Linked DNA regions of Homo sapiens: regions 1 and 2 are each linked to region 3. The links come from fine-mapping of genetic effects on gene expression. A gene starts in region 3. Each other region holds a variant in brackets. All regions are shown on one strand. Distances are between the middles of the regions.

The links. PIP is the estimated chance that this variant, and not a neighbour inherited with it, causes the effect.
Region 1: its variant is the best candidate, but not a certain one, in a credible set for the expression of RPS6KA5 in Th1/17 cells (Schmiedel 2018, PIP 0.54).
Region 2: its variant is the best candidate, but not a certain one, in a credible set for the expression of RPS6KA5 in whole blood (TOPMed, PIP 0.84).

The regions. Positions count from the first base shown.
Region 1 is chr14:90,966,575-90,969,418 of GRCh38, reverse strand. The region is part of intron 3 of RPS6KA5 (ribosomal protein S6 kinase A5); the gene reads left to right. Among named protein-coding and RNA genes, the nearest start is that of RPS6KA5, 93 kb to the left of the region's middle. The variant C/T (reference allele first, on the strand shown) is at 1,301.
Region 2 is chr14:91,132,247-91,135,098 of GRCh38, reverse strand. All of the region lies in intron 1 of DGLUCY (D-glutamate cyclase), which reads right to left. Among named protein-coding and RNA genes, the nearest start is that of SNORA11B, 7.2 kb to the right of the region's middle. The variant C/G (reference allele first, on the strand shown) is at 1,178.
Region 3 is chr14:91,059,253-91,061,752 of GRCh38, reverse strand. It overlaps RPS6KA5 (ribosomal protein S6 kinase A5), which reads left to right and starts at 1,112. Exons shown (of 17, transcript NM_004755.4): 1 at 1,112-1,421. The coding sequence starts at 1,319. It also overlaps a transcript of DGLUCY not described here. RefSeq lists silencers at 610-739, 960-1,019, 1,390-1,519, 1,590-1,659 and an enhancer at 802-1,382.

The DNA of each region.
Region 1 (2,844 bases), 93 kb after region 3:
CATCTGCTAATAAAAGTGTATGAACTGCAGAACAATGGAGAGATTTCTGAGTTCAACGTTAAGTCAAATCAGATGTGCAAAGACGAGCAGCCTGAAACTGTGCAACAGTATGTACTTAGAAAGTCAGAATTTTGATGGAGAGCACGTGCTGTTTTACCCTAACGTTAATTCCATAAGGTATTAATTGTCAGAATGATATGAGTTGCTTAAGAATCTTGGAAATTTTGTAGAGATCTTCAGTTCAAATTCTCAGAATTAATTTACTGTTTTAAGAAACAAATTTACTGGTTTAAAGGCTATTTTTCTCTCCTCCATTCTCTACCTGCCTTTCCATATACATACAAACACACATACACACACACGGCTTGCTATTCTGAATCCAAGAAGGAAATATTATTTCATAATAACAAAGTGAAATCTACTTGCTACTGTTAAATATCTGCATAAATTATGTGTCATTGAAATGAAATATAAATTGTTTTCCTAATATGAAAGATGTGTGACCTAAATTAAAGGGCTATTATTCTGCTAAAATAAAAAGATTGTTTTGGTTATTAACTGTGTGATCTTGAACAAGACACTTAAGTTATAAGCATGATCTACAAGTTGCTAATATATCAGTTGTCTTTTTCTGCATAACTAACCCAAAATTCAGTGGGTTAACATAACCATTTTTGAGGGGCTCAATTTGGGCTGATCCATAGAGGCAGTTTTTGTGCTATTTTGCTGCCTTTGAAACACTCTTTTCCTTTTTGCCCTTTGCAAAGGGCATAAAGTTAAGTAATATGAGGACTGAAAAGTATTCATTGACTCTAGTAACAAGAGGTTATTTTTAGCTTTAAGTTATGGTGTTATCATGGAGGTAGAAGTTGTACTGTAGTATGTTAAGGAATGAATAGAGGCTGTGGTAGACTGAATAATGTCCTCCCAGAGATGCCCACATTCTAATCCCCCAGGACCTGTCAGTATGTTGAGCTACATGGTAAAGAAGAATTAAGATTACAGATGAAATTAAGACCACTAATCAGCTGACTCTAAAATTGAGAGATTATTCTGAATTATCTGGTGTGGGGCCAATGTAACCACAAGGGTCCTTACACAATAGGAAGAGGGAGGGAGGGAGGAGAGAGGAGGGTGAGAGGGAGATGTGTCTACAGAGAAGGTCAGGTGATGCAATGTGAGAAGTGACTCAGCTGCCATAGCTGCCTTTTAGGATGAGGGAAGGGACCAGAAGCCAAGGAATGTGGGTGGCCTGTATCTAGAAGCTAGAAAAGGCCAGGAAACAGATTTTTCCCTGGAG[C/T]CCCAGAAGAAACGCAGTCCTGCTGACACCTTGATTTTAGTCCAGTGATGTCCATGTCAGACTTCGAGTGTACAAAATTATAAAATAATAAATTCATAGTGTTTACGCCACTAAGTCTGTGGTAACTTCCTATAGCAGCAATATGAAGGGAACAGTGGGTAAGGAGCATCAGCCATGTAGACCACGCTTTAAAGAAGTTTGGCAGTAAAATAAAGAAGAAAGACAAGATGGGACACGTGGGATTTAGGGAGGATGGTAGTGTGTTTTAAAATGGGAGAAATTTTATGTTTTTGAATTTTCACATTATTTGTGTGATTTCTGTGTTATTTTTATGCTTCTTAGAGACACAGTATCAGAGTGCTTCATCTGGCATTCCAAATACCAGAACATAAAAATCTTTAAAAGCAAGTTAATTGCACTTGAATAAAAACCAGATATCTCTGCAATTTTAAAACTTAGGATTGCACTGAAATATCAGTTATATAAGAAAATCTCTCTTTAGCTTAATACTAAGTAATTAGACCCTGGTAGTACTTTATGGAAATATATGTTAAACATTCATAAGTCTTAAAATTATGACCACATTGAGTATGTAAGTCAGGGCACAATAAATTTGATTTTTATATTTAAGTCATTATAATTAAGCTTGACAGTATTTTTCAAGTCTATAAATTGTAACTGATGCCTGTAAATAATAATAGGAGCTATTAGTTATTATTTAACAAATGCCTACTGTATGCCTGGCTCATAATCCTCAGTAGCTCATTTAATCCTCATGACAATCTTATGTGGAAGTTAGAATTATTTATATTAATATTTTGCAGTTATAGAATATTAGTCATCCTACATATAAAGAAGACCATTTAAGAAATACAAAGGAATTAAGATATAATCATTTACATGACATTTCTTTTAATCAAGAAACAAATCATTGGCACAAGGATCATATAAGGTATTCCATTGTATGGACTGTAAGTCAATTTCAATGGGATGATAAATGTTTTTTGGAAGGGTCACATTAATGAAATTTGCCTGACAGCTTCTGAGAACATGTATTAGAGTTAGCCCTACCTATTTATTTTTAATTATTGTCATAAAGATGGACTATTGATAGTTTTCTTTTGTTCTTCAGTTGTAAACAGAATAAGTCTGAAGACTTATCCTGAATTTATCTCTTGGAAGAGCTCAGAACTTGAGACATGCCCATCAAGAAAGATGTTCTTACTGTTATTACCAGTTCTCTTTTGCTTTCTCTCTTCTTTTCTATTTCTTTCTACTCTTTATCAATGCTGAAACTTAAGATGAAGAATCTACCTTAATACTTATGTGGCTACGGCAGTTAGTTACTGCAATATTACATGTTTACTCATTCCTTGCAACTAGTATTAGTGCCTTGTATTCGATAGGGCTAGACCCTGTGCCTGGCAGAGAGAAAATTGTCCTTGGACTTTAGTCTGCCTCTTTGGTGCCAGATCCCAACTTGACTTTCTGGCAGAATACATGTAAATTAGCTTTTAGAATAAAATGTACAATATGTAAATAAA
Region 2 (2,852 bases), 73 kb before region 3:
TTAAAAAATTAGCTGGGCATGGTGGTGTGCGGCTGTAGTCCCAGCTACTTCGGGAGGCTAGTGGGAGGATTGCTTGAGCCTGGGAGGGGGAGGTTGCAATGAGCAGAGATCACACCAATGCACTCCAGCCTGGGCTACAGAGTGAGATCCTGTCACAAAAAGAAAAAGAAAAAAATGTGTAAAGGCTTGGGAAGGAAGAAAAAACGTGCAGATATTATGATTGCGTGGAAAACCCAACATTATCTACAAATAAATTATTAAAATTAGTAAGTGAGTTCAGGAAGGTTTCTGTATATAAAATCAATATGTAAAAGTCAACTGCACTTCTATACACCAGTAACAGTTAGAAATGTAATTGTGAGGCCGGGCACGGTGGCTCATGCCTGTAATCCCAGCACTTTGGGTGGCCAAGGCAGGTGGATCATCTGAGGTCAGGAGCTTGAGAGCAGCCTGGGCAACATGGCGAAACCCTGTCTCTACTAAAAATACAAAAATTAGCCGAACGTGATGGCACAGGCCTGTAGTCCCAGCTACTCGGGAGGCTGAGGCAAGAGAATCGCTTGAACCTGGGAAGCCAAGGTTGCAGTGAGCTGAGAGGGTGCCACTGCACTCCAGCCTGGGTGACAGATGGAGACTCTATCCCAGAAAAAAAAAAAAAGAAATGTAATTTTGAATGATACCATCTATAATAGCATGAATAAATATCAATTACCCAGGAATAAATCTAACAAAATATGTGAAATCGTTTATGGAAAATATGGTAAAACTTTACTTAAAGACATTAAAGAAGAACTAATAAATGGAGAGACAGCATGTTCACGACAGAAAGACGCAATGTTGTAAATATATCTGTTCTCCCTAAATTGTATATTCTAGGCAATTCCAATCAAAATCCTAACAGGTTTTTAAAAAGGAACTGAACACGCTGATTCCAAAACTTACAGGGAAGGGTCAAGGGCCAAAAAATAACAAATCGCTTTTAAACAAGAGCAACAGACAGGTGTGTGTTGGGGTTGGGGGCTTGTCCTCTACCAGATATTAAGACACAGAAAACTATGGTAATTAAGATGGAGTGAAAGGGCTCCCACAACTCAACTCAAAAAACAAATGAATAGTCCAATTAAATGGGCAAAGGACTCGAATGGCCCTTTCTCCAAAGAAGCTATACAAATGGCCA[C/G]TGAGCACATGAAAAGATACTCAACCTCATTACAGAACTGCAAATCAAAACCACAGTGAGATACCACTTGACATACATTAGGATGGCTATTATCAAAGACAAAAGCAAAATTAGAAAAGAAGTATCGGTGAGGACACGGAGTAACTGGAACCCTTGTACATTGCTGGTGTGATGGTAAAATGGTGTAGCCCTCTGTGAAAACAGTATGGCTGTTCCTCAGAAAATTAACATTGGGCTACAGGCGGTGGCTCATGCCTGTAATCCCAGCACTTTGGGAGATTGAGACGGGAGAATTGCTTGAGGCCAGGAGTATAAGACTATCCTAGGAAACATAGTAAGACCCCATCTCTAGAAAAAATATATATAATTTTTAAAAATTAAACATTGAACTACCATGTAATCCAGTAATTCCACTTCTGGTATATACCCAAAAGAATGGGAAGCAGAGATTCGAACAGATATTTGTATACCAATATTCATAGCAGTATTATCCACAATAGCCAAAAGGTGGAAGCCAATGTCCACTGATGGATGAATAGATAAACAAATTTGGTATATACAGACAATGGAATATTATTCAGCCTTTAAAAAGAATGAAATTCTTTGTTGTTGTTGTTGTTGTTGTTGAGACGGAGTCTTGCTGTTGTCACCCAGGCTGGAGTGCAGTGGCAAGATCTCGGCTCACTGCAACCTCCACCTCCCGGGTTCAAGCAATTCTCCTGCCTCAGCCCCCCAAGTAGCTGAGATTACAGACGCCTGCTACCACGCCCGGCTAATTTTTGTATTTTTAGTAGAGACAGGGGTTTCACCATGTTGGCCAGGCTGGTCTCAAACTCCTGACCTCCAGTGATCCGCCCACCTCAGCCTTCCAAAGTGCTGGGATTACAGGCGTGAGCTACCGCGCCCAGCCAAAAAAGAATGAAATTCTGATATATGCCATAACATGGGTGTACCTTGGAGACATGAAAGACATTATAAGTAAAAGAAACTAGACACAAAAGGACTAATATTATATGATTCCACTGATATGAGGGACCTGGAATGGTCAAATTCATAAAGATGGAAAGTAAAATGGTAGTTGCCAGGGGCTGGGGGAAGGGAGGGATGACTGAGGAGTTGCAGTTTGGGAAGATGAAAAAGTTCTGGCTGGGCGCAGTGGCTCACGCCTGTAATCCCAGCACTTTGGGAGGCCGAGGCTGGCAGATTACCTGAGGTCAGGAGTTCGAGACCACCCTGGACAACATGGCAAAACCCCATTTCTACTAAAACACAAAAATTAGCCGGGCGCAGTGGCGGGCGCCTGTAATCCCAGCTACTTGAGAGGCTGAGGCAGGAGAATCGTTTGAACTCAGGAGGTGGAGGTTGCGGTGAGCCAAGATCGTGCCACTGCACTCCAGCCTGGGTGACAGAGCAAGACTGTGTCTCAAGAAAAAAAAAAAAAAAGAAAAAGTTATGGGTCTCCCAAGTATCTTGGACTACAGGCATGCACCACCATGCTAAGCTAATTGTTTTATTTTTTGGTAGAGATGGGATCTCACTATGTTGCCCTGCCTGGTCTTGAACTCCTAGGCTCAAGTGATCCTCCCACCTTTACTTTCCAATGTGCTGGAATTATAGGAGTGAGGTACCACACCCTGCCCATAGTAATTAATATTTATTGTACTTACAAAAATAT
Region 3 (2,500 bases):
GCTGTATCTCTTACATCATACTTTCATCTAACCTTATCAATCACTTAACCCACCCTTGCCTTCTCTGCTGTAGGCCAATGCTCACAGTTACTCTCTCTGTGTGGAATGTCTATTGCTGGTATTTCTCTCTTATCCATCCTTTACGTTGGTTATCTCAAATGCCTCCTTGCCCTAAAAGCTTTCCCCAGTTCCTCGTCTGGGAATAATTATTGCCATCCGTGCGAGATTCTCTAACGCTTTGTACGACTGCTTTATTTCAAATTCTGCTTTATAGTTCTTTTGTGTACACACACAGATTGTTTCTCACGTTCTATTGAAAGCTGCTTAGGGGAGGAATTGTATTCTATTTTGTTAATCTCTGCATCCTTTCGGCGCCTAGTAAGAGTCTTGTACGAAACAGAAATGTCTCTCCTTCGTAAAATTCCTCATCGGGAGCTGGGACTGTGAATTTTTGTAACGTTTAAGAACTATCTGTTATTTAAGAACAAACACTCTGCTTAACTTGTTTAGGGTTCACTAGAGCGAGTAAGACCTTTTTAGGGCACGCCGTCTCGCTGGTTGTCACACACGCATGGATCGCTGCCGGGACCCTTAGGTTTGTCTGCAAACACGTGGGTGATAAGCGCTACCCTCCAGGCCCCTCCTCTGTCCACGGTGATTGGCGGACCAAACGTTCCAATCATCCCTCCCCGCCTCTTTCGGCAGTAGCCAATCAGAGACCCCGAGCGCCTCCTGACTACTAGACACTGTTTACTAACAGATCGAAGCTGGGGAATAAGGGGTGTGACCGTTCTGGGGAGGTCAGGGAAGGGAAGGTCTTGACTGCGAGTGCGCACCAGAGGAAATGGGCGGGGCAGAGCTTTGGGTCTCACCAATCGGAGTGGCGGCGCTCCTCCCTCTCCTGCCTCCCCGCCAAGCAACAACAATTCGAGGAGCGAGGCGGGGAGGCTCGTGAAACGTCACAGCGTACTGCCCAATGGGAACCGGCGTTGGCAGACGCGCGCGCCCTGTGTCCAATCAGCGAAGGCGGCTCGAATGGCTCCCTTACCTTGCTGGCTGTGGGCGGAGCGGCCTGAGGAGGCGGCGGTGGAGCAGGGGGCGGTTTGGTTGCGCGGTACTAGCGGTGCCCGCCGAAGGGGGAGGAGGCGAGGAGCGAGCCGTGCGGCCAGAGCGGGAAAGAGACTCGTCTTTGCGTCCGAGTTCTGGAGCCGCCGCACCCCGACTCCTGGGGCCGCGGCAGCGGCTGCGAGGGGACGGGCGTCCGCTGTCTCCTGGGTTCCCCTCGTAGCGACCCGCGGGATCGGAAAAAAAGGAGAAGATGGAGGAGGAGGGTGGCAGCAGCGGCGGCGCCGCGGGGACCAGCGCGGACGGCGGCGACGGAGGAGAGCAGCTCCTCACTGTCAAGCACGAGCTGCGGACTGGTGAGCGACCCCGCCCTCTGCCGGCCGGGCCCGGCGCGGGGGCGCGCCTGAGGGCACGCGGGTGCCCGCGCGGGGCTGGGGGCGCGGGGCCGCAGCCGTGGGCGCGGAGGGGCGGGCCTGGGGCGGGGCGTCGCGGTCGGGGCGCGTGCCCCGGGGGTCCCGGGAGGTGGGGGCGCGCCTTGGGGGAGGCGGCCGAAAGTTTTCCCCAGCCCGGGAATGAGCGGCGGGCACCAGGCATCGGGGCCAGCGCAGCCGCCGACCGCTGCCCGTGGCACGCACCTCCGAGGATGTCGCTGCTCCCCCTTCCCGCACAGGTGACACACGTGTGTCTGCGTCCTGTCAGGGCGAAAGGTGCGCCTGCCTCCGCGTGGGGCGAGCGGCGCTTTGTTTTGGAGAGTGTCTCCCTCCTCCGCCCCTCTGGTCCCCGCGATGGGGGGTCCCGGTGGGGCTCTGTGGAGCCATCCCCTAAGGTGCTGGGGTCCTGTAGGAGATAAACGGGAGGTTTCGCCTCGGGCTTTTACCGAGTCCAGTCTAGAGACAGGAACAGGAATCGCCGGCTCCAGGGATTGAGTGCCTTTATTCTCACTTATCATGAAATACTATACTTGGCCTTGAATTTCCTTCAGAGGTCCCTGGAGATGATGGCTTTAGAAATTTAAAGCTCCAGGTAAAAGGAACTAACGAGCAGGCTTCAGCGCTTACGTTCTAATGTTTGAGATCACTAGCGTTGTCCTAAGCTTTATAACTAATTAAATGTATTCGTGGTGTAGGTTCAGGTTGTTCATTTTGGAAAATGCTTATTCAGACCAATCAGTACAATTTGGATTTATATTCTTGGAGCCCAGTCTCGTATTGTAGATATATTAATACTTTTTTCTCTGAACAGATAGTACATTTTAATGAGTCGTTCGTTATTACTAGATATGTTTGTGAGCGTTGAAGGTTTTTGACAGAGCTGCTTTGGCATATTGGGATTTTTTTTTTTTTTTTTCAGACAGAGTTTCGCTCTTGTTGCTCAGGCTGGAGTGCAGTGGCATGATCTCGGCTCACCGCAGCCTCCGCCTCCCGGGTTCAAGCGA